Linked DNA regions of Homo sapiens. The protein of the gene in region 2 interacts with the protein of the main gene of each other region in a pairwise test. Each region holds a gene or a part of one and is shown on either strand. Other genes may lie near its edges.

Region 1 (3,704 bases), on a different chromosome or scaffold from region 2:
GAATGAATTCAGCACCTTCAACTGAAATACCCAGGTTCTTGCATTGGGACTGACTAGGCAAGTAGCTCGACCCACGGAGAATGAAGAAAAGCAGGGTGGGGCGATGGCTCACCCAGGAGCAGCACGGAGACAAAGGAACACCCATCCCCAACCAAGGAAAGCATTCCCCTTGAAAACCAGCACAAGACATGGATGCCCTCTCTTATCACTCCTATTCAATAGTATTAGAAGTTCTGGCCAGGGCAATCAGGGAAGAGAAACAAATAAAGGGTATTCAAATAGGAAGAGGGTATTCAAATAGGAAGAGAGTAAGTCAAATCACCTTTGTTTGCAAGATGACATGTTTCTATATCTAAAAAACCCCATCATCTCAGCCCAAAAGCTTCTTAAGCTGGTAAGCAACTTCAGCAAAGTCTCAGGATACAAAATCAATGTGCAAAAATTGTTAGTATTCCTATACACCGACAACAGGCAAGCAGAGGGCCAAATTATGAATGAACTCTCGTTCTTTTGTATGAATGAACTGCTACAAAAAGAATAAAATACCTAGGAACAAGGGAAGTAAAGGACCTCTTCAAAGAAAACTATAAACTACTGCTCAAAGAAATAAGAGAGGACACAAACAAATGGAAAAACATTCCATGCTCATAGTTAGGAAGAATCAGTATTGTGCAAATGGCATACTGCCCAAAGTAATTTATAGATTCAATGCCACTCCCAGTAAACTACCATTGACATTCTTCACGGAATTAGAAAAAAACTATTTTAAAATTCATATGGAATCAAAAGAGAGCCCAAATAGTCAAGACAATCCTAAGCAAAAAGAACAAAGCTGGAGGCATCATGCTACCTGACTTCAAACTAAACTACAAGTCTACAGTAACCAAAACAGCATGGTACTGGTACAAGAACAGACACATAGACCAATGAAACAGAACAGAGAACTCAGAAATAAGAATGCACGTCTACAACCATCTGATCTTCGAAAAACCTGACAAAAACAAGCAATGGGGAAAGGATTCCCTATTCAATAAATAGTGCTGGGAGAACTGGCTAGCCATATGCAGAAAACTGAAACTGGACCCCTTCCTTATACCATAAGCAAAAATTAACTCAAGGTGGATTAAAGACTTAAATGTAAAACACAAAACTAAAAAAACCCTAGAAGAGAATCTAGGGAATACCAGCTGGGCGCGGTGGCTCATGCCTGTAATCCCAGCACTTTGGGAGGCCAAGATGGGTGGATCATGAGGTAAGGAGTTCGAGACCAGCCTGGCCAATATGGTGAAACCCCGTCTCTACTAAAAATACAAAAATTAGTTGGGCATGGTGGCACGTGCCTGTAGTCCCAGCTGCTTGGGAGGCTGAGGCAGGAGAATCGCTTGAACCCAGGAGGCGGAGGTTGCAATGAGCCTCCAGCCTAGGCGACAAAGCAAGACTCCATCTCAAAAAAAAAAAAAAAAAGAAAAAGAAAGAAAATCTAGGGAATACCAATCAGGACATAGGCATGGGCAAAGATTTCATGATGAAAACACCAAAAGCAATTGCAACAAAAGCAAAAATTGACAAATGGGATCTAATTAAACTAAAGAGCTTCTGCACAGCAAAAGAAACTATCTTCAGAGTGAACAGACAACCTACAGAATGAGAGAAAATTTTTGCAATCTATCCATCTAACAAAGGTCTAATATCCAGAGTCTACAAAGTACTTAAGCAAATTTACAAGGAAAAAACAACTCCATTAAAAAGTGGGCAAGGGACATGAACAGACACTTCTCAAAAGACATACATGTGGCCAAAAAACATATGAAAGAAAGCTCAATATCTTGATTTGAGAAATGCAAATCAAAACCACAATGAGACACCATATCATGCCAGTCAGAATGGTGATTATTAAAAAGTCAAGAAACAACAGATGCTAGTGAAGTTGCGGAGAAAAAGGAATGCTTTTACACTGTTGGTGGGAGTGTAAATTAGTTCAACCATTGTGGAAGACAGTGTGGCGATTCCTCAAAGACCTAGAGGCAGAAATACTATTTGACCCAGCAATCCCATTACTGGGTATATACCCAGAGAAATATAAATCATTCTATTATAAAGATACATGCACATTTATGTTCACTGCAGCACTATTCACAATAGCAAAGATACGGAATCAACCTAAATGCCCATCAATGATAGACTGGATAAAGAAAATATGGTATATATACAACCATGGAATACTACGCAGCCAGAAAAAGGAATGAGATCATGTCCTTTGCAGGGACATGGATGGAGTTGGAAGCCATTATCCTTAGCAAACTAACACAGGAACAGAAAACCAAACACCACATCTTCTCACTTATAAGTGGGAGCTGAATGGTGAGAACACATGGACACATGGGAGGGGGAGCATCAGGAAGAAGAGCTAATGGATGCTGGGCTTAATACCTAGGTGATGGGGTGATCTGTGCAGCAAACCACTGTGGCACATGTTTACCTATGTAACAAACCTGTACCTCCTGCACATGACCCCTGAAGTTAAAATAAAAGTCGAAGAAAAAACATTAAAGAAAAACATTTTCACAATTAAAGTCGACAGTGGCAGCAACTGCCTTACATGGTGGTAAACAGCCCATTCCTGGAGGTACTCAAGCAAGTGTTTTCAATCTTTCCTTTTTTTTTTTTTCTTTCTTCTGGAGACAGGGTCTCACTCTGTTGCCGAGGCTGGAGTGTAGTGGTGCAATCTCAGCTCACTGCAACCTCTACTCCCCAAGCTCAAGCAATCCTCCCACCTTAGTTTCCCGAGTAGCTGGGGCTACAGGTGTCCACCACCATACTCGGCTAATATTTTGTACTTTTTGTAGAGGTGGAGTTTCACCATGTTGCCCAGGCTGGTCTCGAACTCCTGGGCTCAAGTGATCTGCCCGCCTCAGCCTCCCAAAATGCTGGGATTATATGCGTGAGCCACCACGCCTGGCTCCAAGTGTTATCTTTCCTACATAGCAAGGACAGCATCAATATCTCAGGAGAGAGGCTAAAACAGAGGGCCATGAAGGTTCTTTCCTACTCTAATATTAGAAAATATTGAGCATGGGAGTCCCACATTCCATAAGCTAGGATCTCTGCTCACTACCCCAGTGTTCCCCTCCACAAGTGTACTTACGGAAAGTAATGGTCTGTTTGCCTGTTTCCCCCACCAAGGAAGAGGCCATGTGTCATTTACCTCTGAGCTGTCATTGCCTGACACTGTACCTGGCACACAGTAGACAGTGAATAAGCACATAAACAAGCTTTAAAAATTGTTTAAAAAATATCTCAAAGACAAGTTCAAACCTCAGTTTTGTCAGAGTCATCATTTCCCAGTAACTCATCATCTTCTTCTCTTCCTGAGCCTCTTGGGGATCCTGGCTGATGTTTTGGGGTTTCACCAGGATCCTCAATGTTTACTGTGGTGGCATCTGGGTTTGCTGTCAGAGAAGTGGCTGCATTGCCAAATTCTGAAATCAATTAGAGCACACGGGCCTCAGAAACCTTACCCACACTAGAAATGCTATACTTTGAATTTAAAGACAAGCTGTCACAACCTCAGCTTTGCTATAGACCCTACCTGATACAAAGGGCAAAAGCTTTGAAAAACAAAAAATCTCATCAGGAGATCAATCTGATATAGAAAAATGACTATGAAGACAACAGAATTTGGAGTCAGACCTAGATTTTGGTTC
Region 2 (3,737 bases):
TCAAAAAAAAAGAAAGACAGAAAGACGAAAAGACACAAGAAAAGAAGAAAAGAAAGAAAAGGAGAAGAAAGAAAGAAAGAAAGAGAGAGAGAGAGAGAAAGAAAAGAAAAGAAAAGGAAGGGACTGAGATTTGAGATTGAAGTAGAGTGATGAGTTAGAGTACAAAGTAAGATTTCTAGGCTTCAAAATGATGGTGTGATATACAAAAAAGCTGAGTCACTTAGCATCAGTTAGAGGGGTTGTGTTAAGTAAGGTGATAGTGGGACATCCAGTCTTTGGTGAACAAACCTGGAAAGATTTCTAAAGACAATCAGTCTGTTTATCTGTGTCATTACTGGGGTTGTCTCTGGCCACCTTGGAAAGTGAAATGTGGGTTTGTGAGCCGGACGAACCAAACCAAAACCAACAGCCATGCTACATAGCTTTACCAGGAAAACAACTGAGACCATCAGAAGGAAGTTGTGGTCTTTGTTCAACAAATCCAGAATGATTTCTACTGGAAAACTGGTTTGTTTATCTCTGTTATTATTGAGGTTAATTGTTTCTAAGTCAAAAGGCTAACACATTTTAAGCGCAATGGTTCTTAAGAACTTTTAAGTACATAATGTCTGTGACAGAGGGGGAAGAGTACTTGGTTTGAAGTCCTCAAAAACTGTGTATCGTGATTACTGCTATGGTCTGAATGTGTCCTCCAAAATTCATAGGTTGGAAATCAAATCCCTAAGACAACAGTATTGAGAGGTGGAGCTTTCTGGGAGGTGTTTAGGTCACAATGAATCCACCTTCATGAATGAATTAATGCTATTTTAAGAGGACTCCACCAAGGAAGTTTGTTCCTTTTTGCCCTTCTCTCTTCCACCACGTGAGGAGCAAGAAGGACCTCACCAGACAATAGATGCCAGCACCTTCATCTTAGACTTCCCAGCCTCCAGAATGTAAGGGAATAATTTCTCTTCTCTATACATTAACCAGTCTCAGGTATCCTGTACAGCAGCACAAAATGGACTAAGACAATTACTATATTGTTATTACATTATATGAACTAAGTTACTGCTTCACACATTTGTAATTTGTTGCAGATTTTTTGGGGTTTTGTTTTGTTTTGTTTTTTGAAATGGAGTCCCACTCTGTCGCCCAGGCTGGAGTGCAGTGGCGCAATCTCGGCTCACTGCAACCTCCACCTCCTGGGTTCAAGTGATTCTCCTGCCTCAGCCTCCTGAGTAGCTGGGATTACAGATGCCCACCACCACACCCAGGTAATTTTTGTATTTTTAGTAGAGATGGGATTTCACCATGTTGGCCAGGCTGTCTCGAACTCCTAACCTCAGGTGATCCACCCGCCTCGGCCTCCTAAAGTGCATGAGCCACCACGCCCGGCCATAATATACTGTGTTTTTGTATTTTCCATATATATTTTTGGTCTAAATTTATTTAGGGAAAAGCACTTAGTTACATTAACTGATAGTTAATATTTTATATATTGTAAAGCCTCCTTTGCTCTAAACCAGGGAGAGGAAGAAGAGCCCATGGTGCATGTAGAGAGAGAGAGAGAGAGAGAGAGAGAAAGAAAGAAAGAAAGAAAGAAAGAAAGAAAGAAAGAAAGAAAGAAAGAAAGAAAGAAAAAGAAAGGAAGGAAGGAAGGAAGGAAGGAAGGAAGGAAGGAAGGAAGGAAGGAAGGAAGGCAGGCAGGCAGGCTGGGATTTGAGAAGCAAGTAAGCAAAACATCATGTTGTACACCATAAATATACATAATTTAACTTGTCAATTAAAAATAAAATTTAAAAAAGAAGTCAGTGGAGAGCTGGGAGGTTATATTTCATGAAAGCTAAGAAAAGAAAGCTCCCAAATGAAGGCTAAAAGCCAATAAAAATCAGGGAGGATGAGAACTGAAGAAATATTCAACCTTACCCCACTTTTTGGTGCCTTCCATCCCAAATCTATTCTTTCCATCTCAGTCTCACTCCCAAATCGCAAGTTAAGGCTGTATTTTGTACCTACCTGAGTGATAGAACCAGTGAAAGAATGCATTAGTAAAATTAGGGGAAAGAAAATAAATGGAAAGAAGATACCCATCAGACCAGTCAAATATTTTATCTTTCAATTTGCTGGAAAAAATTACACAATCTGTTTAAGCATGTACAAACTGTTTATAGACACTGTGCTCATTCTGTGCTCAAGGCACAAATGACTGACAGACTGAGAAGCAGACTGCCCTCCTGCTCTACAAAGGAGAGGGAGGAGGCCCTTCATACGTCAAGGTCTTCTGCATAGACAGAAGGTCCTTCAGCACTTTATTGGGTCTACAAGTCATCTGTCACTCTTCCTCCTAATATATATCACCATTGCTTCCATCCAATTACCCTGTCTATAAAATAATACGTCTATGACTACTTTAACATTTTCTGCCAGAAGAATGTTTATACTCTTGACAAAGCAGCATCTGTTTTACTTCAATGATACTAAAAAGATTCCCTCTGTGCTCTCACTCATTGCTGGTAAAAATGGTACACCACAGAGGGTGTCTGGCAATATCTAGGAAAATTAGCGATCCTGCTTCTAGGATTCTGAATCCATGGCCCTCTGGACATGGTTTTATTGACATTGGCTCATGAATTATACACATGCTGTACCCTACACAAGTACTTATGTACCTGTCCATCTGTGCCAGAGTGAGTGGCATGACAGCCAGGTCCTATTTTCCTCTCCATCTCTAGGAGACCTGGCATAGTCTCACGCTGCAGCATATTGGAAGAGCTCGTTAAATACTTACTGAATAAATGTATGAATCAAAGAATGAACCAATGTCAACACACTGGTGCTATGGAAATATTCTCTCTGTCTCCGTCATATGTCACGTATCTCCAGGTGAACATTGGTAAAAATCTTACTGAAATGACCCCTTTATACTTAGTTCAAATGGTAAACAGCCCCATAGCAATCCAGAAAAAGAGACTTTCTATAAAATTATGCTCTCCCAGCAGGGCATGGTGGCTCATGCCTGTAATCCCAGCACTTTGGGAGGCCAAGGCGTGCAGATTACCTGAGGTCAGGAGTTCGAGACCAGCTTGGCCAACATGGTGAAACCCCATCTCTAAAAAAAATACAAAAATTAGCCGGGCATGGTGGCACACGCCTGTAATCCCAGCTACTCGGGAGGCTGAGGCAGGAGAATTGCTTGAGCCTGGGAGATGGAGGTTGCAGTGAGCCGAGATCATGCCATTGCACTCCAGCCTGGGTGACAGTGTCTCAAAAAAAAAAAAAAAAAAAAAAAATTATGCTCTTCCCAGACAAAAGCAAGTAAAATTTTAAGAAGCAAATATTTAGCTGATTGGTGCTCCTTTCAGAAATCCAAACTTAGATAACTTGCAAGTATTTGTGTACATCCTTCTACTCTTTTATTTTTCTTTTAAGCAGTCCATTTATTTCATGATTGTTTGTTAAATCAATAGGATTTTTTTCTTTCATTATTTTTTCTTTTTAAAGGAATCAGACCAGGTGCAGTGCCTCATGCCTGTAATTCCAGCAATTTGGGAGGCTGAATTGGGAGGATTGCTTAAGACCAGGAGTTTAACAACAGCCTGAGCAACATAGAGAGACCCTGGTCTCTACAAAAAAAAAAAAAAAAAAAGTACAAAAATTAGCTGAATGTGGTGGTACACACCTGTAGTCCCAGCTACTCGGGAGGCTGAGGCAGGAGGATGGCTTGAGCTCAGGAGTTTGAGGCTGCAGTGAGCTAT

Evidence for each region. Proteins that work in one complex are often made in the same cells at the same time.
Region 1: the proteins of SLC10A6 (region 2) and YIPF1 interact in binary tests that used the Homo sapiens proteins (3 or more experiments, as listed by UniProt).

What each region holds. Positions count from the first base shown.
Region 1 is NC_000001.11:53,879,798-53,883,501, forward strand, and holds part of YIPF1 (protein YIPF1), read right to left. Parts: intron 3,480-3,704; coding exon 3,316-3,479; intron 1-3,315.
Region 2 is NC_000004.12:86,835,665-86,839,401, forward strand, and holds part of SLC10A6 (sodium-dependent organic anion transporter), read right to left. Parts: intron 1-3,737. UniProt on the Homo sapiens protein: Transports sulfoconjugated steroid hormones from the extracellular compartment into the cytosol in a sodium-dependent manner without hydrolysis.